Linked DNA regions of Homo sapiens. The protein of the gene in region 1 interacts with the protein of each later gene in a biochemical or structural test. Each region holds a gene or a part of one and is shown on either strand. Other genes may lie near its edges.

Region 1 (6,951 bases):
CAAATTAAAACTCAGGTTCTAGGCTTTGTCTATGTACTATCTGATTTCTATGTTTAATTCCTTTTTTTAAAGAAATTAAATGAAAGAGTGGCCTAGGAGAATCAGTGGGCTAAAGAAAGGCGCTTCTTTGTGAATTTTTTTCCTTCACAGAGATGAATATTTTAGGTAGTACTGTCCTAGAACTTATAATTTCATTTTCCTTCATAAACTTAACATTATGAAGGGCCATAAAACAAAGTGTTTCATTACTTACCTTTTTAGAACCATTTAGCCTGGCACTATTTGGTTTCTTGGTTAATTCCTGTTTCTAAATTTAATTAATTGGTGGTGTTTCCTTGACAAAGTGTGACAGGGTTTCTACCTGGCTGAGCAGAAATTTCCATGTTAGCTTTGTAATAATCACTAAGAAAATCACTATAGCATCTGATTTCTTTGCTTTTAAGAAGAGTTCTTGGAGCAATCCATTACACCTGCATTTGAAGAAAGTTGTGTTGAAACCACAATGAGAGGATAATGCCAATAAACTGAGCCAAAATATTATATGAATATTTTAATGCAAAATGCTTAACACTTAAAATTAGCAAAGCGTCATTTAAATTAAAATTCCATTTAACTAAAGATGGTTAACCCCAAGAAATTGTACAGTAGTTGATTTCTGCTATATAATGCCAGTCCTATGCCATACAATAAGAACTGCAACATTAGCTGTCACTTCCTCCATTGCTCTTCTGGACCCTAAGGGATGAGGGAGGGGACTCAGACACAAAACACAACCCAAATAAACTGTGCAGTGATTCCTAATAGTTATAAACCCAATCTAAGTTGTCCAAACAGCTGAAGAATAACTGCAGGTATTGTTCCAGAGCTGATACGAGGTTTTGCTTTTACAGCCTGGTAAAAGTTCTGCACTAGGTGAGAAGTCACAGTTTAAGGATGCATGTTCTGTAAATAGTTACTACATATACACATTTACTGTCTGTAAACACTAGAAATATACATTAGACAGAGTACCCTCACAAGTTGGGTACAGTTTAAAAAAGAAGATGAGGTAACATGAATCTCAAAGTCCACAGGAATCCTGCCTGAAGAGTTTGAACAGCTGCCTGTAATTCATTTCCAATGTGCAGGGAGATTAAGGTTTGCCAAAACTGGATTCACTGGCTTTCAGCATAGCAACTGCATCTTTCACTGCATGGTAGATAACATTCTTCACCTAAAAATAGTAGGAGAAAATATGGGCATTTTACATTTAAATCTAAAACCTGTCACTAAGAATAAGCTTCCTCCTACTAATTTTATTACCTTCTCTCAGAATTTAAAATTCAATATTCGTATGAAATGTCAACATTGCAAAAGGTCCCTGGGCTCCTTCAGACCAGTATTTCACATACATTTTAAACCCATGATTTCAAGAACTCATTTTCCCCCTTTTAGAGGTTTTGATACCACGTAGACCTACTCACAGTGAGTACAGGGAGAGGCAAGTTCCAAGGTACAGCTTTTATCATTTTTCCCTTATTTTCCAAACATGAAATTATGTTACATAATTCATTACTGAAATCCTTTTGAAAATACCACCCCCTCAGACCTCTTTGAGTCTCAGAGATTCAGTTCTGCTCTACCTAAGAGTGATGAGAACACTGCAGCACTGAAGGTTAAGCACTGTGTTCAAGACCCCGACAGGCAGCTGGGCCAAGATCAGAAGTCACATCTATTCATTTTCAGTACTAAGGCCTTTCTCTGTGGGGACAGTCCCTTATAGATTCTAAACAATATCAAATCAAACCAAGGTGAGATTTCCTCTTGTTCCTCCCTCACTTAAGTAGATAGTAGTACTAGATATAAAGCAAGTTCCTCGACTCACTGTGTACTAAGTACGATATGGCCAAGTTCACTGACTCTCTTTATAAGGTGAAGAATGGGCCATGAAGCCATAGCCATAGCCAAAGAATGCTAGGAATTGGTGCTATTTTTACCTGTAATTTATCTTCGTGATTGGTATGAGTCTGTGACAGATATCGGAATTCCTGAGTAAGCCAGAAGCAGTGTTTAACATGCTCTGGAGAAACAAAATCTTCAGCCACTTTGATGCAGCTATATAAGTTATGAACCTGAAAAACACCAAGTAATATATCAGTAACAAACCCAAAAGTTCATGACATAAAGAGATTAAAGAAAAAGTAATGATTCTTGCCTGATGTGGAGCTCCTGCCGGGATAAACACCACATCCCCAAGAAACTGTACAATAGCCCAGCCTTGAACTCCATACTCTTGATGAAGACGTTTTCTTAATGATCGGTCTAAATACCAGCTTTGATCATGAATAGGATCGTGGTCTGCTGGGTTTTCTTGACCTTGCTCTTCTGATACCTAGAATACATTCAAAATATTATGCAACTCAGTAACATGCTAAGGCCCAATAAGCCATTTTTTTCCTCTAAACAGTGTTGGCAGTTCATAAATGTCAGGCCTTCTTCAACTTAAGTGCCCCCATTGGCAGAAGACGACTAGTAGTATCAAAGACTTCAGCTGAATGAACCAACAGAAGAATGACGAAGAAAATGTGATGTCAGTTCCCATAAACCATGACTGACAGGCTCTGCATAAGTTTGTAAATACTGTATTTAAACAATATTTTAGTCTAGATTTTTAAACATAAGTAGGCTCAGTATCCTTATAAATGAACTTGTTTTAAAGTTATTAGAAACCTGCCTTTACTTAATCTGACTTACGAAACAGTCCCAAAGACAGCTGCAGATTAGACTTGTTTATCCTTGATCCAGTAACTGGTAAAGCAGAGACTCAGAGTGACAATATCAAAAGAACAATATGGTGACCAAGCCGGTTTTCTGGAAGAGCCAAATGATCCTTAGCCAGAAACACTTTGATTCAAACAAATGCTTGTTAAAGACATACTTGGGGCCAGCTAACAGGTTACGAATGTTCATATCCAAGACTCATGAATGACTGAAGAATATCAGCCAAAGACACCTGAGTTGCAACCGGCAGCCTCAGTGCCAAACAATTTTAAAACTGAACACGACTCATCTTTCTAGTTGCCTAGAATTTCCACACATAGCCCTTGCTGAAAAAAAAACCTGCCAACTACAGGGGAAACCTAGAATCTTCCAAATCCCTGCAACCCTTGCTAGTAACAAGTAGGACCACTTGCTACATGACAGTGGACAAAACCAAACTTAGCAACTCACTCAGAACATGGTCACTCAGGGCCAAGGATACATGAACGTCTGAAGTGCTCAGATTCTCAAGGCAATAAAAACAGATATATGCTGGGAGATGATCAGATGAACTAACTTCTAACTTGAAAGCAGAGAACAAAAATCTCTAAATGCACTCTAACACAAAACACAGACATAAAAGACAAGGCCTGCTTTTTTTAGAAGTGTAACCCTAATCATTTAGAATCCTTGTTCCTTAGCAACCACCTTCAGCCTATTCAATCTGACAGGTACAGATTTAACTTTTCAGGTTGTGACAATTCCCCTAGCCAAGCCAGTCAGTTCACCACATGTAGTAACATAATATTGCTATTCCTTATGCCTCTGTTCACACATGCCATAAGCAGCACACCTTTTTAAGAAATTCCCTTATCTTCTCCGTGTCCTTTGCAGCATATATGTGCCACAGTGCTCCTGGCTTCTCTTTTCCTTCAATAAATCGCTTTATTGTGAGTTCGTCAGAATCTCCATCTTGGATGGTCTTAAGGACTTCTAGAGCAAGAAGAGAAAGCAGATATCAGACCACAAGCCCTGGCTCAAAGAGTAAGCCCTCCTTTTATGCTCAGCACCCTACCTTCTTCTTGCTCACACTGTCCTTTGGGAATTCCCACATAGACCATGACATTAGCTGCATCAGATACATCTAAGTGAAGATTTGTTGTTCCATATTTCCGATCTTCAGGAGTGATTAATCCTGCAAAAACAAAGTGCCTTAAGTTTTACAAAAGACAACAAAGGCTGCCACAGTCTTTCCACTACCTACCTGGGGGATGGTAGGTCCCTGATTGACTCTTCTGCTGAGAATAAAAATTCTGGATCAAATTATTGCAAAAAAATTCTTTAACCAATCGATGTGCTAGCAAGAAAAGAAGGAATACTCAGAAGCCAAAAACAGCAGGAAATGGAAGTGGTTAAAGCAGGCTTCCGAAGCTGGGATTTGCCAAAAGGACATCTGCTAGATCAAGTGAGCTCAGGCTTTGATTGTTGCCACAGCCTAGGAGTTCTGGGGCAAGAGACAAAGCCCAAGGACCACTCGAGATGGGGAGTCCAAGGGAAAGCACCCACCCACACACACACATAAACCTGGAACGTCAAATGGCTATCATGAGTATAAGAAGGAATACTGCCCAACGCATTCCTTGGTTCTCTCAACTGTAAAAGAGGAGGGGTGAGGAGTGAGCCAGAAAGACAGGTCCCCCACAGTGTTCAGTCTGTGGCTAATTCCTTGCTCACAGGAGAAAGCTCACCTTGCTCAACAATCATCCTGAAGCTTACCCTGCAGTCACTTTGGGCAACCCATTGTAACACCAGGACTCTGCTTCTTAGACTGGGCAGTAGGGAGAAGCACAGCTTGTAGTGAGCAAGCAGCGGCTGTTTTCTAACCTGCCAGCCTCTGAAAACGCCCCATAATACTGTTTTGGAGGAAGGCTTTATCTCTGGCTTGCCTGGGGCTTTGGTTTTAGAGGGGCTATACTTTTGAGAGGGCACATTTCTTCACTCCAGCTTGGGACCAGGGCCCCCAGAGCCCTGTTGTACTTTCCTTTCTTTCCAGCTTGCTGAAATATCAGTCCTGGGAGTAGGTAAAGCGTTTGGTATTAGGGTGAAATCATAGGATAGTTGAGAGGATGATGAAAAAACATAAAGAGAGAAGACAATGAAACGATTATGGCAAAAAGTTAAAAGCTGTTATATAACTGGGTGATGAGTTATATGGAGTCACTACCAGACTCTCAAGTTTTCACTGTATTTGAAAAATAGTTCCATAGTAAAAAGCAAAATTTCAGAAAAAAGCAATTAATGTAATAGAAATAAAATGAATGAAATGAACACATGGATGATATATGACAGCATGGATGAATATAAAAAATCTGATTCTATTTATATGAAGTTCAAAAGCAGGCTAAAAACTGAAAGAATATTGTGCAGGAATACAAATATATATGTTAAAATTGTAAATATAAGCAAACGATAAACACAAACTTGAAGATGGTGGTTAGACTAAGGGCAATAGGAAGAGGATGGAGCTGGCAAGAAAAGTAAGGAAAGGAGACTAGGAGGCAAAGCCTCAGCAGGACTGGCTGCCTGCTGATCCAGCCAGTGCCACAGTGCAAAACGAGCAAGGAAATAACTGCTGCCCAGCCACTGGCCCAAAGTCCACTGGATCCCAGTCATGGGTAACTGTACATTGATAAAACCAGACTCTAAACCATGGTAAACTGAGATGAAACCAAAATTGTAAAAACATAATGGTCAAAGGGAAAGGAGTGCTAGACAACAAAACATCCTGAAACAAAACACCATGGACTTTTAAGGGGGAAAAAAAGCTGAAACAGTAGGGGCTGTTGGGTGATGGGGAGTTAAGAGTGGGGGAAGAGTAGGGAAATGGGCTCTAGCTTGGAAATCAGGAGATCTAAGTACTAGTTTCAGACCTGCCACTAGCTGCCCCTTGGAGATCCTGAACAAGTCAATGCCCCTTCTACTGTCCGCAAGTCCTGGTCCTCATTTGCAAAATGGGGGGTGTTGCAGGAACTGAAGAGAGGCTGGATTATATGATCTCTCCAAAGAGCCTTTGCACTTACTCTCATGGAAGAGTCACAGCTCAATCACACAACCTTTGAAAAGACCACTCTTTAATGATGTTTACAATAAGATATAAGGTGTTTGAAAATGAACACATCATTATTTTCATCCTTCTGAATGCTTGCTTCTGGATGGGAACCATTTTGTCATAGGAAAAGCTTTTATAGAGTAACACTGCCATCTATTAGTGTCTAGGGGGAAAGACCCGCTGCCAAGCTAGTTAAACCACGCAAGCAATTCTTTTGAAAATTTCTCAGATACCCACCTTTAAAGCTTCAGGATTTCTATAAAGCATGGATAAACTATACAATTTATTGGAAAAATGCTCTTATATACTTAAGTTTGCCCAAGATCCCAACCATGCAGCTGCTTTAATCAGTCTCTGAGGGGCTCGAGGGACAGGACCTCGAGAGAGCACACTGCAGACCCACAGCACATGGAGGACTCACCAACAGAGACCTGAGAAGTGAGGAACAGGCAAGAGGCCTTGTGCCCACCGGGTCTTCTCACCCACACACAATTTCTCTGGTACCCCTACCCTGGCAGAACTATCTTGGGCATGGAGACTGCTGGGAGCTTGCACACAAAAACACTCCCCTGTCACAACAGTCCCCAACTACACTCCTAGTGGTTCCCTGAGCTGACTCAACCGTAACAGAATTGTGGGGCTGGAGTCCTTGCCCCTCCTTCCCTTCCCTCCCCCAACAGTCTTTGGAGAACATAGCGAAGACAACAACAGACCTTGTCCTTTTTGAGAAAGACACCCACAGGTCTAAGGCTAGAAATGGAAAATGACATGGAAGTAATTATGGCAGGAAGAAATAAGTAATTTCCAGGAGGACTGGAAAAGTAGGGGCCAAATAGTAAAAATGAGTAAATAAAATTCACTGAAATATTCAAACAACTAGAACTGCATTCAACAATACATACTTCCTTCAAAATGGCCAACTCGAATCCAGCCCTAATTAAAGGCCATGTGTAAAACTGACGAAGATCTCAGTTATAATGATGATGAAAGAAAGCTCTGGTAAATGGAGAAACCAATCTTTATCCCAGGCATCCTCCTTGTTAGACAGTGAGTATTGAGTCATGTCAAAAGAATAAAAGTCCAACTCAAAGGGTACTTTGAAT
Region 2 (7,534 bases), on another chromosome or scaffold:
GATGTCGCGGCGATAGTAGTAGCGAAGGCCCCGGCTCAGCTTCTCGTAATTCATGCCCGGCTTTCTCTTGCGCTCGCCCCACAGCCGAGCCACCTAGGACAGAGGCCCGCTCGGTCGGAGTGGGAAGGGGCGGGGCTTGGCGATAGTGGGGAGGGCCGGGCCTGGGGGCGGTGTGCAGTGCAGACCTGGGCGAGGCCTCGCAGAGCCCGGTGGAGACTGGGTTGGTTGAGGCAGGAGTACAGGCGGGAGATTGGGTTTGAGAAGGGTTGGGCGGGGCCTCGAGTGGGCCGGGGAGCGGCGGGGCCGAGGGCTACGCGGTTGAACCTAGCCCTTGGGCGGAGCTAAATTGAACTAGAAGAGACGGGGCGGATTTGGCTGGGCAGGGGAGCTGCCCCACCTCTTTGGGGTCGCACAGCTGGAACTCGCGGCTGTTGCCAGTCCAACGGATGCAGCTGCTACGCGCCCCGTCGTGGAGCAGCTCCAGGAGGAACTGCCACAGCTGAATGGGACCTGCGGGATGAAGGGAGGGGCACACTCAGTCTTCCCGGCCCTAGATCACACCACTTCAATGATCTAGAGGTCCGGGTCCTCCCAACTCGGGACCCAGGACCCGAGAAGGGGATCCGCCCCCCCTTCTCTGAGATCCAACAGTCAGCCTTGGAGACTCAAGCGTCCAGGGCCCCAGTCTCAGAGATTTAGGAGTTTGGCCTCCCCATCTCGGAGACCCAGGAATCTGGGCCTTTATCGCTTTCGTTTTATATAATCCAGGAGCCTGGGTCCTCATCCCCTTGGTCCCTATAAGACTACCAGTTTCTTAGCCCTCTCCTCCCCAAGGACCTGGAGTGCGGGCCACCGGCCCCTCCTTCGAGCCCCTGGTCCCTAAGCCCCCGCCCCCTCACTGTCAGTCTCCCGGGCCCCGCCCCCTTAGGTGCCTGGGTCCCGGCTCAGGACTCCAGCTTCGCCCTCCCCGCAGTCTTTGCGGCCCTCTCACCTCGGTGGTTAGTTTTGGGGCATCGAGCCAAACTGGCACGGTCCGACTGCGGGCTCGGTTCGGAGCAAACGGTGAGAGCTGAGCTCTGGTACCGCTTCAAAGAGGTGGTGCCACCCGCATGCAGCCCCGGGTTCCAGGAGGTGGTACAGTCCGGGCCCGCGGGCCCGCCCCACGAAATGGTACAGTCCGTGCGCGGCTCCCCGCCCAGGCCACTGCCCCAGTAGGTATCGCCGTCGGGCCCCACAGAACAGTCCCAGCTGGTGTTGCTCCCGGCGGCCTGGGCGCGCGACCACGAGGTGGCCTCTCCCGCCACGGGGACGCAGTTCTGGCCCGCGGCGCCTTCGGAGCCGGCGGCGGGGATGGGGCCCGGGCCGAGAGGGGCGGGGCCCAGGGTCTGCGAGGCGCCGCTCCAAGAGTCCCAGGCTGTGCACGCCATGTCTGTCCAGTCCCCGGACCACGGAAGAGCCTGAGAGTCGGGCTCTGTGAGGAGTAACGGATCCCGAGTGAGGGGAGCCCAGGTGCCCCCTCAAAAACTCTAGGGTCTAAGCTCTCAACCCTGGCACTTGGGGCCCGGCTGACCCGGATCCAGGTCATGCCACCTTGAGGGCGCAGGTGTTCTCAGTCCTCAAAGATCAGGGAGTCTACACCTCTAGCCCCGGTGCCTCGGGACCCCAGTCCCCACCTCCCACCGCCTCTCCCCACACTCACCCGCCCCCCATGGAACTTCTGGGTGCAGTAACGCGGAGCCCCAGTCCAGCTGTGGGAAGCTTGCCAGGGATGAGCTTGTACCTGAGTTTAGGGAGGACTGTGAGCAATGAAAGAGACCCCTCAACTACCCACTCTCTAGTCTCTACTTGTCAGGGACTGGGAGTTATGGCCCCCCAGCCCGTATTTCAGCACCCCGCGCCCCCTTTTCCTTCACCCTCAGGGGTCAAGCACGCGGCCCCTCCCCACCCAGTCCCAGGAACCTAGGCACGCCCCCCTCCTCCCTTTGCCCTAGGATCCCAGCCTCCCCGCTTCTTCTCCAGCACTTAGGGGTCCCAGCCCGCAGCCACCTTTCCAGCATGTCTCTGCTGTCGCTGTCGGCGTGTCCCCTTGGAGTGCCAGATCAGGGAAACAGAAGCCTAATTTGGCTCCTTCTGCAGGCGATAAGGGGTTAGGGTCAGCAGAGGCCCCACCTGGACACCCTCCCCACACACGTTGTGGCAGCCTCGGCAGCCTACCAAGCCCTGCCAGCTTGTTCCCTGGAGGCACTTCCTGTGGGGATGCCTCATCCCAGTTCCACAGGTCCATGGATGCGATGAAGGCCTTCTGAATGTTCTGGGTCGGGAAAAGTCCAGATGGCAATGGGTGAGCTGGTGACACTTGGAGGCCCTGGAGTCTGGGCCCCAGCCCTAGCTTCCCTCAGAGCCAGGAGTCCAGGCCTCCGCTCCCTCCTTCCCCAGGAGCCTAAAATCTTGGTCCTGGGAGTGAGGGACCCCAGCTCTCTTCCTCTGTTAGACCCAGGAGTCCAGGCCCCCGGCTTCTTGGGAGTCTAGTCCCCCAGGTCCTTCCTAACCCAGACACCCAGGCATCTAGTCCTCAGTTCATCGCTCACCTCTGGCGGGTTCCTCTGCCCCCAGCCGGGGGTCTCAGCCCCATTTCATACCATGCACCCCCTCCCCCAAGGGCCTGGGCAAGGGGGAATTTTCCGAGACGTCAGAGCAGGGGTCGCAGCCAGGCTCAAGTTGCAGAGGCAGGGGCGGGGCCGAGCCTCGACCCCAGCCTCGGGGATAGGTGCTGGCCTCTGGGGCTGCCCTGCTGCAGGGGTGGCGTGGGCTTGGAGCGAGGCTTGGGGAACAGCGGGCTGGGTGAGGGCAGGGCGGAGGCTGGGAGAAGTTTACGGGGTGATGGGGGCGGGGCGGGGGGCTTGGTGAACGGGCTGTCTGCCTCAGGGTCTCGATCCTGCGACATGGGGGGAGTGAGGGGAGAGGGTCTGGGGTCAGCTGGGCTAAGCTGGGCTTATCTGCAACAGGAAGAGGGATTTCCGGCCAGATTCCCCCACCCGCCCCCAGCGTCAGCTGACGTCACAATCGGCAGAGTAACTGCGGGGGCGTGGAGCAGGAGTGAAGGCCCACCCAATCCTCCACCAGGCCCAGTAGGGAGGGCGTCCTGGGGCTGCTTCCCAGGAGTGCCAATCATAGCAATATTGACATCAACAATTTCAACAATAACAATAGTAGCAATAACGGCCAACATTAAATGAGGGCTCATTGTGTGAAACCAACTGTGCCATACCCCTTCATTGAATCCTTCTATGAGGCAAGTACAATACATACTCTCATTTGATGAAGGGGGAAGGTAAGGCAGGCATCCTCCCACTGCTCTCCTTCTCCAGACCCCATGCCCTTCCGCGCTGTAATAGTTTAGGACAATTGGGGAAACTGGAGTATGAACTGAATATGAAATATCATAGAATTCTTTTCTTAGATTTGATAATGGTATTCAGGAGGAAAGATATCATTTAGAAAATGAACTCAGAGATGAAATGTTATAATGTCTGTAACTTGTGGTTGGGCGCGGTGATTCACGCCTGTAATCCCAGCACTTTGGGAGGCTGAGGCGGGTGGATCATCTGAGGTCAGGAGTTCTAGATCAGCCTGTCCAACATGGTGAAACCCTGTCTCTACTAAAAATACAAAAAATTAGCCAGGCGTGGTGGCGGGTGCTTGTAATCCCAGCTACTCGGGAGGCTGAGGCAGGAGAATTGCTTGAACCAGGGAGATGGAGGTTGCAGTGAGCCAAGATCATGCCATTGCACTCCAGCCTGGGGAACAAGAGCGAAACTTCATCTCAAAAAAAGAAACAACAAAAAAAAAGTCTGTAACTTGCTCAAATAATTCAGCAAAAAACAACAAAAAACCACAGCTATACATGTAACATATACATACATACATGAAATATTTAGGACATACCTAAACTATAAAATTGTTCACGTAAAATTCAATAACTGGGTGTCCTATATATATATAAAATATTTTTCGAGATGGAGTCTCACTCTGTCGCCCAGGCTGGAGTGCAGTGGTGCGATCTCAGCTCACTGCAACCTCTGCCTCCCGGGTTCAAGCAATTCTGGTGCCTCAGCCTTCCAAGTAGCTGGGATTACAGGCAAGCACCACCATGCCCGGCTAATTTTTTGCATTTTTAGTAGAGATGGGGTTTTGCCATGTTGGCCAGGCTGGTCTCGAACTCCTGACCTCAAGTGATCCACTTGCCTCGGTCTCCCAAAGTGCTGGGATTACAGGCGTGAGCCACCATGCCTAGGCTAATTTTTGCATTTTTAGTAGAGATGGGGTTTTGCCATGTTGGCCAGGCTGGTCTCAAACTCCTGGCCTCAAGCTATCCACCTGCCTTAGCCTTAGTGCTGTAATTAGAAGCATGAGCCACCACCGTGCCCAGCCATCCTGCTGTATTTTAATAAGTATGTAATATTTACCATTAAAAATAACTTTTGCATATCGGCATCTTCCAGTCCCCAGCCCAGCCTCTTGATCATTAACTACTTGCCGTTCTGGAGAGCGGGTGGCATTGCTCCTCCTTCCATTTTACAGTAAAGTAAACCGGGGGTCCCATGGAGTGGGAGTGGGACTGGGATTGGAATCAGTGTGGGGTAAGCCACAGAGCCCTGGAGCATCACTGGTCCCTCTATCCGTCCAGCGCGGAGGCCTGAAGGGAGTCCTGGCTTCCCATCCTTGAAGCTGGCCTCTTGTCTGTCTCTCCATGTCTCTCTGCCCTCTTTCTTCAGGTTGGCATATCTAAAGCTGGGTCTCTGTTGCCACGGGCCTGACTCCAGTGAGGCTTTGTCACCTGGTCTCTTCTGACATCTCTGTCCCTCCCCATCTGTCTTTGAGTGTTCCTATCTCATCTCCTTGTCCGTCTCCATCTGTCTCTTGGTTTTCTCCCCGTCCCCCTTCCCACTGCACAGTCTCTGATGGTTCTCATCTCTGCCTCTGAGCCTCCTGCTCACAGCGCCATCTCTACCTCTGCTTGCCACATTCTATGTGTGTGTGTCTCTTCTTGTTCTCAGGAAGACTTGTGTGCATTAAAAAAAAAGATAAACATTTAGGGGGTACAAGTGCAGATTCCTTACTGGATATATGTCAGTATATCCAGTATACTGGCCTGGGCCTTTAGTGCACCCGAATGGTGAGCAACGTACCCAACTGGTAACTGTTCAGCTTCCCCCACGCTCCCACCTTTTGGAGTCTGCAGTGCCTGTTACCCCACTCTGCATGTCCACGTGTACCTGCTGTTCTGCTCCCACTTGGAAGTGAGAATCACATGCATTTGGAAGCGTCCTTTCTGGAGCCATCCTCTCTTCCCATCTCCTCCCGTGACCCTATGCTTGCTGTCAGTACAAGGGGGGTCAGGGGTAGAAAAGACTAGTGATGGGGGGAAGGGGCTTTGAGGATCCTGGGGCTGGGTGGTCTGGCCCAGGTGGCAGGGGGCTAAAGGGCACTTCCTGCCAGGGAGGCTCTCACCCTCTGACCAGACTGGAAAATGTGACGTCAGAGAGGGGGCAGTAAGGCGGGGAAGACAGGAACAGGAGAAATTCGACACCTCTCCTGGGGGACCTCGGTCCCTGAGAGGCCTTGGTATTGTCCATCCCCCGACTTATGCCCCACAAAGTCCTGCCCAACCTGCTCCCTCCTAATGGAGGGTTCCGATGGCTGTGTCCCTGGGAGACCCTCCACTCCTCCCCATACTCAAACCTGCCATCTCCCTCCTCTGGCCCAGTCCCTGCCCCAGCCTTCTAGACTTCCAGCCACAGTGGTGGTCGCAGGGCGTTTTTTTTTTTTTTTTTTTGAGACAGAATCTCACTCTGTCACTAAGGCTGGAGTGCAGTGGCGCGATCTCAGCTCACTGCAACCTCCTTTTACCAGGTTCAAGCGATTCTCCTGCCTCAGCCCTCCCAAGTAGCTGGGACTACATGTGCCCGCCACCACGCCCAACTAATTTTTGTATTTTTCAGTAGGCACAGGGTTTCACTATGTTGGCCAGGCTGGTCTCGAACTCGTGACCTCAAGTGATCTGCCTGCCTCCCAAAGTGCTGGGATTACAGGCGTGCGCCACCGCACCCAGCCGGTCACAGGGCCCTTTCTACAGCGCACATCTGTGCTGCCCAGGACCTTGCTGCTGCTTGAATTTTCTCAGCTTTTTGGGGCTTGCTGCTGCCTTCTGCGTAAAGCTTAAGCCCTCAGCCTGGCATTCAAGGCCCTGCACAGACACCTCTTCAGACAGGCAGAGGCCAGCTTGGAGCTGGGAAGAGAGGGGAACAGACCCCAAGTCTCTGTTCTCTCTATCTGTGGGTCTCTCCTCCTTTTTCATTTCCCAGCTCCAAGGGAGAGAACAGAGACCAACAGGGATATAGAAGCTTAGAGACAAGAAATGGAGGGGTACCCACAGAGACAGAGATAGAGGTGCCCACCGAGACTTAGAGCATGGTGAGCTGGCTGGGCATGGCAGACTGGAGAAGCTGGAAAGCCCCAGAGGAGACTTGGGGGTGGACGGTTCCTTCAGGAAGGGCCCCCTCACCCACAGGTCAGCGCCCCCATCCTGCCCTGACCACTCTGGGCTCTTATCGTCAGGGCACCGGGCCTATTTTCTGCACTGGACCTTGAGCTCTAACGGTGCAGGGCCCAGGACTTTTAGTCACCATTGTGTCCTCAAGCACTGTTCAGACCCTTGGTGAGAGTCTGCTGGATGGAAGAGGGCCTAGAAGCCTGTGAGCTCCAGAAGGGAAGGGCCTAGATCTCCTACCTTGGTGCTGAGAACACAGGAAGTAGCCAGGACACGGGGATGGGCCTCAGCTTGGCTTCACCCTTGCCATTGGCCCCCCTTTCTCCTCTGGAATAAGCAGCACTCAGCATGTGTGGAAGAGGTTTGAAGAGGGAATGGGTGCGCAGGAAGGGCTCAGAAGCCCCCGCCTGGGTGTTTGCCTGGGTAAACTCTCAAGGCTCCCCGCCATTTCCAGCTGTGGGGAAGCCAAGCCCTGCTCCCCACAGCGTGCTTCCATGCCCAGCCAGGGGTGGAAATGAACGTAAATTTATTGAAACTGGTTTTGGGGCAGGGGATGGGTGGACAGCTGGGGGTTTTCCAAAGAGAACTGAGGGAGGAGCCAGCGCCCGGCCAGGTGGGAGCGGGTGCCTGGCCACAGACCCTATCTCAGGCCCAGCTTCTTCTTTTCCTTCTGCTTCTTGCGGACCACGTCCAGATTCCGGTCCTTCCACATGCTCTTGCGAAGCTTGATGGGGCGCGAGCCCACATACTTCCCTGTGGAGACAGAGGGTTCAAGGCAGGCTCGGGTCAGGCTTAGGCCAGCGCCTGCCGCGCCTGCAGTTCCCAGGGGAGGCCGCACCCACCATTCATCTCACGCATGGCGCGCACGTAGTCGCTGGGGTCCTTGAAGCTGACGAAGCCGTAGCCCTTGGTCTTGCCTGTGCGCTTGTCACGGATCACCTTGGCCTTAAGGAAGGATGGGAAGCGGCTGAAGGCGCGTGCCAA
Region 3 (7,261 bases), on another chromosome or scaffold:
ATTCTGAGATGCAGAAGAATTCCAACTTTGAAAGCTATTTTTCAACAACATCTGCTTTGGACAAGGATTGGCTAAAATACAGGATGGTGGGTAGAAGATTCATTTCTTAATATAAGAACAGATCTCAAAATACTTCGATAAAATCTTGATTTAAAAGCTTATACTTATCAGGGAAAGTATGACAATCCAAATTTCATCACTCTCATTCATTCAAAAATACTAAGTACCATGTGCCAGTATCAGAAGCCAATATATAGATTAATATATTGCCCTTGAGAAGCTAATAATCTAATTAGGAAGACATATACATCTGGCTGGTTCCAAAGGACCAGTAAGAGACCACCAGCAGTGAGGAGGATGAAAGTTTTATTTTTTGAGACAGAATCTTGCTCTGTCGCCCCAGTTGGAGTAGAATGGCATGATCATAGCTTGTTGCAGCCTCGACCTCCTGGGCTCAATCGATCCTCCCACCTCAGCTTCCCAAGTAGCTCTGACTACAGGTGGGCACCATCATACCTGGCTTTTTTTTTTTTTTTTTTTTTTTAATTTTTTGTAGAGATGGGTCTTGAACTCTTGGGCTTAAGCGATCCTCCTGCCTCAGCCTCCTGAAGTGTTGGGATTACAGGTGTGAGCCACCATGCCAGGCCTGAAAGTTTGTATATAACATACATGAACATGTCTCACCAAAACCCCCAAGCTCCAAATATTCAAATGAAAATTGTTCATAAATATAAAACATACCCTGGAACTTTGCTATCATATTCAATATCCTGAAGTTTTATTTAGGGTAAAACTTTCCATCCTGAATTCTGTCAACAAGGTTTAGTTACTTTAAAACTCTCATTAAATAGCAGTCTCACCTATAAAGCATATATTCATATAGGTTAAAATATTCTATTGCTAGAAAACCTATGGCTCATGTTTATCTACTGATAAAGCCCAAAAGTCTTGACTTTTCAGAGAATGGCTTTTAGTTCACTGAGGCTTCATAACAGATGCTTTTTCATTTCCTATCATAAAGAGAGACAGTATTTTACTATACAGCTGTCATATTACTGTTACAATCCAGCTAATGGCTACAGCACTTCAGAACAAAACAGTAGCAATTTTACAAAACCAACACATTGTTAATGTTTTTGATCATATAGGAGACAGGTACTGGAGATATCAGTTTGCTATTACCCTTTCTATATCCAGAGTCTCTCCACTTTTACGAACATAAACAAAAGAAAGAAGTCCACATACACGCTACAGCAGACCCTTCATTCTACCTGCATCCAACACTCTTGTCAATTTCATTTCACCTACTATCATCCTTTGAAAGTTTTATGAAGTAGCTGGTCCAACAGATGGGTGGCTAGCCCTGCCCAACACATGACGAAGGAAAAACAGCTCTTAGCAAGCAAGACAAGAAAATATTAAGTATGTCCCTTTCCCTCTCAAGGCTGAGAACACTGAGACTACCTGAGAAGAAAGCAAACAATCTTTTAACCTTTATAAAGAAAAGTTACTGGACTGAGATGATCTGTAAGTAACAAGGTGATTTTAAAAAGGGAGAGAGTTCAAATGCTAAAATCTACCCCTCAAGATAAAACAGGCACTTGCCCACACATAGCAGAGAACTGGAATAGACAGGAAAAATAAATAAATCCAAATTAGTTTAACTGGGAGCTTTTTCATCAAAGACAGATGGGAAACATTCAGATAAGCACACTATCTTGTTTAGAACACAAAGCTCAATAGATCTGTAGGAGGAAAAGGAAAGGCAACCTGAAACACATAGCCTATATGCATAAAAAATGACTCATTATGGTCATATTAGTAAAACCAGAAAGAACAAAATGGTAGTGGTATCTGTCTTCTTTGCCCCTTCCCTGATCATAAGCTTTATTAACCAGATAGCATCTGATCCTGTCTTCAACTGATGTATATCTGTCTTTCAACATACTACCTAAAATGCTCCCCAAGGAAAACAGTGAGACCAATTCTGCCAGAGACAGTATCTGCCAGAACCAAGAAGTCTTATTTTCCTTTGAGTGAAAGCCAGTGGATGGGGAAGAGGTCCCCAAATGCCACTTGTCTGAATCTTTTAAGATATGCTCTGAAACAAGAAAACACTACAGATTACATTTTAGTAGAGATCTAAAAATAGCAAAAGAACATTCCCTATTTTTAGATATCTGACTTCCAAGTGTAAAAACACTAAAAGTAAAAGAAACCACTGAAAACTAACTATATTTTTAAAAGGGTTTTAAAAACTCTGAATTGGAAAACTGTTTTTAGAGATAAAATTTCAAAAATCCTCCCCTGTGTTGACTGACTCTTTGCTCAAACTTACCCATCTCCAAAATTTAGTCCTAATCCTATGTGTTATTAAGGGCATTTCCACAGAACCAAAAGATGGTACAGAAAGGTTATACCACAAACAAGAAAGAACAGCTAAGAAAAAAAATTTAAAGATGCTTTCATAAAAACATAGAGTCTAGACTAGTGATTAAAGACAACAATGTATAAAACAGCAAAGCAATTTAATTGTCTTTCATTTAAAACAGTGCCACAGACAATACAACACTTGATTAAAGAAGACAAAGAGTTTTTTTTCTCAAACAGGTCTCCGCAACTGAATAATCTTAAAACCAGTAACCATCTAATTCAAAGCTGTCAGAATAACTAGAATTTGCAATGAGAGAAAAATTAATAAAAAACTGAAAATGCAGTACATTTCTTCCTCCCCATTTCTGTCCACTCCTAGTACAAATATGACCCATTTTTTTTAAAGAAGCCTGTGGCAAATAAGATTTGTAGGAAATTATTAGCAAGTTAGGAAATTAGGATTTATGTGAATTACCTGACTGTACTGCCATCATTAACATCTCAGGTTCCAGTAGAGTCATGACGGATTCTTCCAGAAACAAAAATCCACAAATATAATGAAGAAAGTCAAAGTCACAGGAGAAAAGCTGTCTTGAAAGCTTTCACAAATTCAATCTGATGCCTTATGCTCAAATCAGACTGTGAGAATATCCCCTTCTCAGTGCAGTTACCAATTTATCCACCCTTCAGGCGAGTCAAGATGACACAGATTTGAATTACTGCCGACAGGAAACCAAAAAGCTCTCCAGTTAAGACATACTAAGTGTGGTTAGAACAGTGAGCAAGCTCCTCCCCTTGCTATTCGTCTCTGGGGGAGGGGAGAGACATATATAAAGAGACTTTCAGAAAACAGATCAACTGCTTTTTTCCTCTCAAGAAGAGAAGATGAGGTTTTGTTCAAAATCCCACTATAAGAGACTGCTGTTAATGCAGTTTAGTGGAACAGATTAAACACAATCCAAACAACTCAAGCTCATGAAAGAAGCAGTCCAATTACTGACCCATTGATGAGAGGTGGGGAAGAAGATTAAACACATATAAACACATATATACAAAATGTAAGCTCCATAAATTTTCTGAAAAAGAATTCCAACGGCTTTTTTATATGTGGTATTTATAGATAACAGGCTAAGGAAGTTGAACATTTAACTACAGAAGCTCAACTATTTCTCCACCCCCACTCCAATTAAAATATCTGTTTCAAAAAGTCATCTGAATACATTCCAGAGCTGTAATCTGTCTTTCAGATCTGTCAGTCCCCTAAAAGAGCCTCTTACTTGTGCCTATATTAGACATACGGTCTGTGAATAGACAGTATACTGATGTTATTTGATTTCATTTACTTTTTTTGTATGTTTGAGACAGGGTCTCACTCCGTTGCCCAGACTGGAATGCAGTGGTGCAAATGTGGCTTACTGCAACCTCGACCTTCCAGGCTCAAGTGCTCCTCCCACCTCAGCCTCCTGAGTAGCTGGTCTCAAACTCCTAGGCTCAAGCGATCTGCCCACCTTAGCCTCACAAAGTGCTGGGATTACAGGCATGAGCCACTGCTCCCCACAGCACCTTTCATTAACTGATATTCATAACAATGATATTAAGATTACTTTCAGTCTATCTGACTGAATTTTTTAAAGTTGGAAACTAAGAATCCATGTTTGGTGTGTTTATCTAGAATTCTTCAATCTTTCTCGTTAACTATCAGCCTGTATGTGAAAGCTGGCTGCTGCCAATAGCCCAGCGAATACCTTAATGCTTACATAGTAAACAAATGGTAAATAAAAGCAGTAGGAGACCTTAAGAGAGAAAATAGTCTCAGAATGACTGAAGGCAATATTTTGTTATTAGTAAAGAGAAGCAATGCAAATTTGGGGTGAGGGAGACTCAGTACAAGAGAGAAAAACTTCCTTCCTTTCTCACTCCAAGAACATCATGTTTAAAAGAAAAGCCAGAAAAGCTCTATATAGAACTGTGGGAATGACTCAACAGGCAATGAGTAGCAGCCAGTGTGGGCTAAATGCTGCTCTGGGAAAGCAGAAGCATCTCACTGGCCCCTTCTGGCAACCAAATTTTCAAACTGACTTAGGAAAAACGGGTAAATTTCAACTTTGAGTCTACATGACAGTCTGGTCAAAGGTTAGCAACTAAGGGAAAAGCATCCCTAAAAGGTTGAGAAGATTGAGTCATTCCTTGGTCCTTATGTGGGCTGTATAATTTGCTGTGTGAGAGGTTTTTTCTTTTTTTTTTTTTTTTTCTTTTTGAGACTAGGTCTCACTCTGTCCCCCAGACTGAGTACAATGGCATGATCTCAGGTCACTGCAGCCTCAACCTCCCAAGTTCAAGCGATCCTCCTACCTCAGCCTCCCAAGTAGCTGGGACTACAGGCATATGCCACCACACCCAGCTAACTTTTGTATTTTTAGTAAAGATGGGGTTTCACCATGTTGCCCAGGCTGGTCTCGAACTCCTAAGCTCAAGTGATCCCCCTGCCTCAGCTACCCAAAGTGTTGGGATTACAGGCCTGAACCACCACACCTGGTCTTTGTTAAATTTACTTTGTCTCTCTAGTAATGAGGGTTTTCAAATGAAACAAGTTTTCACAGTTCGGTATTTACAGGAAAATAAATATAAACTTTAAGATTCCTGCACAGAAGATGGTAGGAAGGGCAGAGGGCTGGCTGTCTCCCTCCTGCCAAAACTGTTCGCCATAGAAGAGAGCATGTAATGCCACAGTGTCAATACTCCAGCACCACAGGAGATATTGAGAGTCATGTGATAGGAATAACAAATAAACATAACATCTCAGTTGATTTGACTTTTTCTTAGCAATTCCACACCCACTATCTCACTGGCACTTTGAGGTAAAAAGACCTAAATAAAAGAAAAACAATTTTTTAAACAGTAATCTTTAAAAAATTAAACAAGAAGCACTTACTTTCGTAGGCCAAACGGGAGGGTGGGTTGAAACTAGAAGTTAGAGACCAGGTTGGGCAACATGGCAAGACCCCATCTCTACCAAAAAAAAAAAAAAGAAAAAGAAAAAAAGCCAGGTATGGTGATGCCTGTCTGTAGTCCCAGCTACTTGGGAGGTTGAGGCAGGAGGATCACTTGGGCCCAGGAGTTCCAGGCTACAGTGAGCTGTGATCACCCCACTAAACTCCAGCCTGGGCAACAGAGCAAGACCCTGTCTCAATAAATAAATAAATGGGCCGAAGCCGCCGCCGCCCGACCGCCGGGAGGATGGAGTTCAGCGGGCAGCGGAGCTGTCTCAGTCTTTGCCGCGGCGCCGGCGAGCGCCGCCCGGGAGGCAGCGGCTGGAGGAGCGGACGGGCCCCGCGGGGCCCGAGGGCAAGGAGCAGCCGCCTGCCTTGGCCTCCCAAAGTGCCGAGATTGCAGCCTCTGCCCGGCCGCCACCCCGTCTGGGAAGTGAGGAGTGTCTCTGCCTGGCCGCCCATCGTCTGGGATGTGAGGAGCCCCTCTGCCTGGCTGCCCAGTCTGGAAAGTGAGGAGCGTCTCCGCCCGGCCGCCATCCCATCTAGGAAGTGAGGAGCGCCTCTTCCCAGCCGCCATCACATCTAGGAAGTGAGGAGCGTCTCTGCCCGGCCGCCCATCGTCTGAGATGTGGGGAGCGCCTCTGCCCCGCCGCCCCATCTGGGATGTGAGGAGCGCCTCTGCCCGGCCGAGACCCCGTCTGGGAGGTGAGGAGCGTCTCTGCCCGGCCGCCCCGTCTGAGAAGTGAGGAGACCCTCTGCCTGGCAACCACCCCGTCTGAGAAGTGAGGAGCCCCTCCGCCCGGCAGCCGCCCCGTCTGAGAAGTGAGGAGCCTCTCCACCCGGCAGCCACCCCATCTGGGAAGTGAGGAGCGTCTCCGCCCGGCAGCCACCCCGTCCGGGAGGGAGGTGGGGGGGGGTCAGCCCCCCCGCCCGGCCAGCCGCCCCGTCCGGGAGGAGGTGGGGGGTCAGTCCCCCGCCTGGCCAGCCGTGCCGTCCGGGAGGGAGGTGGGGGGGTCAGCCCCCCGCCCGGCCAGCCGCCACGTCCGGGAGGTGAGGGGCGCCTCTGCCCGGCCGCCCCTACTGGGAAGTGAGGAGCCCCTCAGCCCGGCCAGCCACCCCGTCCGGGAGGGAGGTGGGGGGGTCAGCCCTCCGCCCGGCCAGCCGCCCCGTCTGGGAGGTGAGGGGCGCCTCTGCCCGGCCGCCCCTACTGGGAAGTGAGGAGCCCCTCTGCCCGGCCAGCCGCCCCGTCCGGGAGGGAGGTGGGGGGGTCAGCCCCCCGCCCGGCCAGCCGCCCTGTCCGGGAGGGAGGTGGGGGGGTCAGCCCTCCGCTGGGCCAGCCGCCCCGTCTGGGAGGTGAGGGGCGCCTCTGCCCGGCCGCCCCTACTGGGAAGTGAGGAGCCCCTCTGCCCGGCCAGCCGCCCCGTCCGGGAGGGAGGTGGGGGGGTCAGCCCCCCGCCCGGCCAGCCGCCCTGTCCGGGAGGGAGGTGGGGGGGTCAGCCCTCCGCTGGGCCAGCCGCCCCGTCTGGGAGGTGAGGGGCGCCTCTGCCCGGCCGCCCCTACTGGGAAGTGAGGAGCCCCTCAGCCCGGCCAGCCACCCCGTCCGGGAGGGAGATGGGGGGGTCAGCCCCCCCACCCGGCCAGTCACCCCGTCCGGGAGGGAGGTGGGGGGGTCAGCCCCCCGCCTGGCCAGCCGCCCCGTCCGGGAGGGAGGTGGGGGGGTCAGCCCTCCGCCCGGCCAGCCGCCCCGTCTGGGAGGTGAGGGGCGCCTCTGCCCGGCCGCCCCTACTGGGAAGTGAGGAGCCCCTCTGCCCGGCCAGCCGCCCCGTCCGGGAGGGAGGTGGGGGGGTCAGCCCCCCGCCCGGCCAGCCGCCCCGTCCGGGAGGTGAGGGGCGCCTCTG

Evidence for each region.
Region 2: the proteins of KDM3A (region 1) and ETV2 form a complex in vitro, tested with the Homo sapiens proteins (one study listed by BioGRID).
Region 3: the proteins of KDM3A (region 1) and MRTFA form a complex in vitro, tested with the Homo sapiens proteins (one study listed by BioGRID).

What each region holds. Positions count from the first base shown.
Region 1 is NC_000002.12:86,486,301-86,493,251, reverse strand, and holds the end of KDM3A (lysine-specific demethylase 3A), read right to left. Parts: intron 3,935-6,951; coding exon 3,815-3,934; intron 3,733-3,814; coding exon 3,593-3,732; intron 2,372-3,592; coding exon 2,195-2,371; intron 2,112-2,194; coding exon 1,977-2,111; intron 1,214-1,976; coding exon 1,133-1,213; 3' UTR 536-1,132; downstream 1-535. UniProt on the Homo sapiens protein: Histone demethylase that specifically demethylates 'Lys-9' of histone H3, thereby playing a central role in histone code.
Region 2 is NC_000019.10:35,637,211-35,644,744, reverse strand, and holds the start of ETV2 (ETS translocation variant 2), read right to left. Parts: upstream 3,001-7,534; 5' UTR 2,589-3,000; intron 2,312-2,588; 5' UTR 2,285-2,311; coding exon 2,215-2,284; coding exon of another isoform or gene 2,131-2,214; coding exon 2,047-2,130; intron 1,797-2,046; exon of another isoform or gene 1,781-1,796; coding exon 1,700-1,780; intron 1,472-1,699; coding exon 992-1,471; intron 511-991; coding exon 398-510; intron 94-397; coding exon 1-93. Other genes in the region: RBM42 (RNA-binding protein 42), read right to left, coding at 7,191-7,303, 7,393-7,534.
Region 3 is NC_000022.11:40,530,742-40,538,002, forward strand, and holds the start of MRTFA (myocardin-related transcription factor A), read right to left. Parts: upstream 3,087-7,261; 5' UTR 2,895-3,086; coding exon 2,849-2,894; intron 1-2,848. UniProt on the Homo sapiens protein: Transcription coactivator that associates with the serum response factor (SRF) transcription factor to control expression of genes regulating the cytoskeleton during development, morphogenesis and cell migration.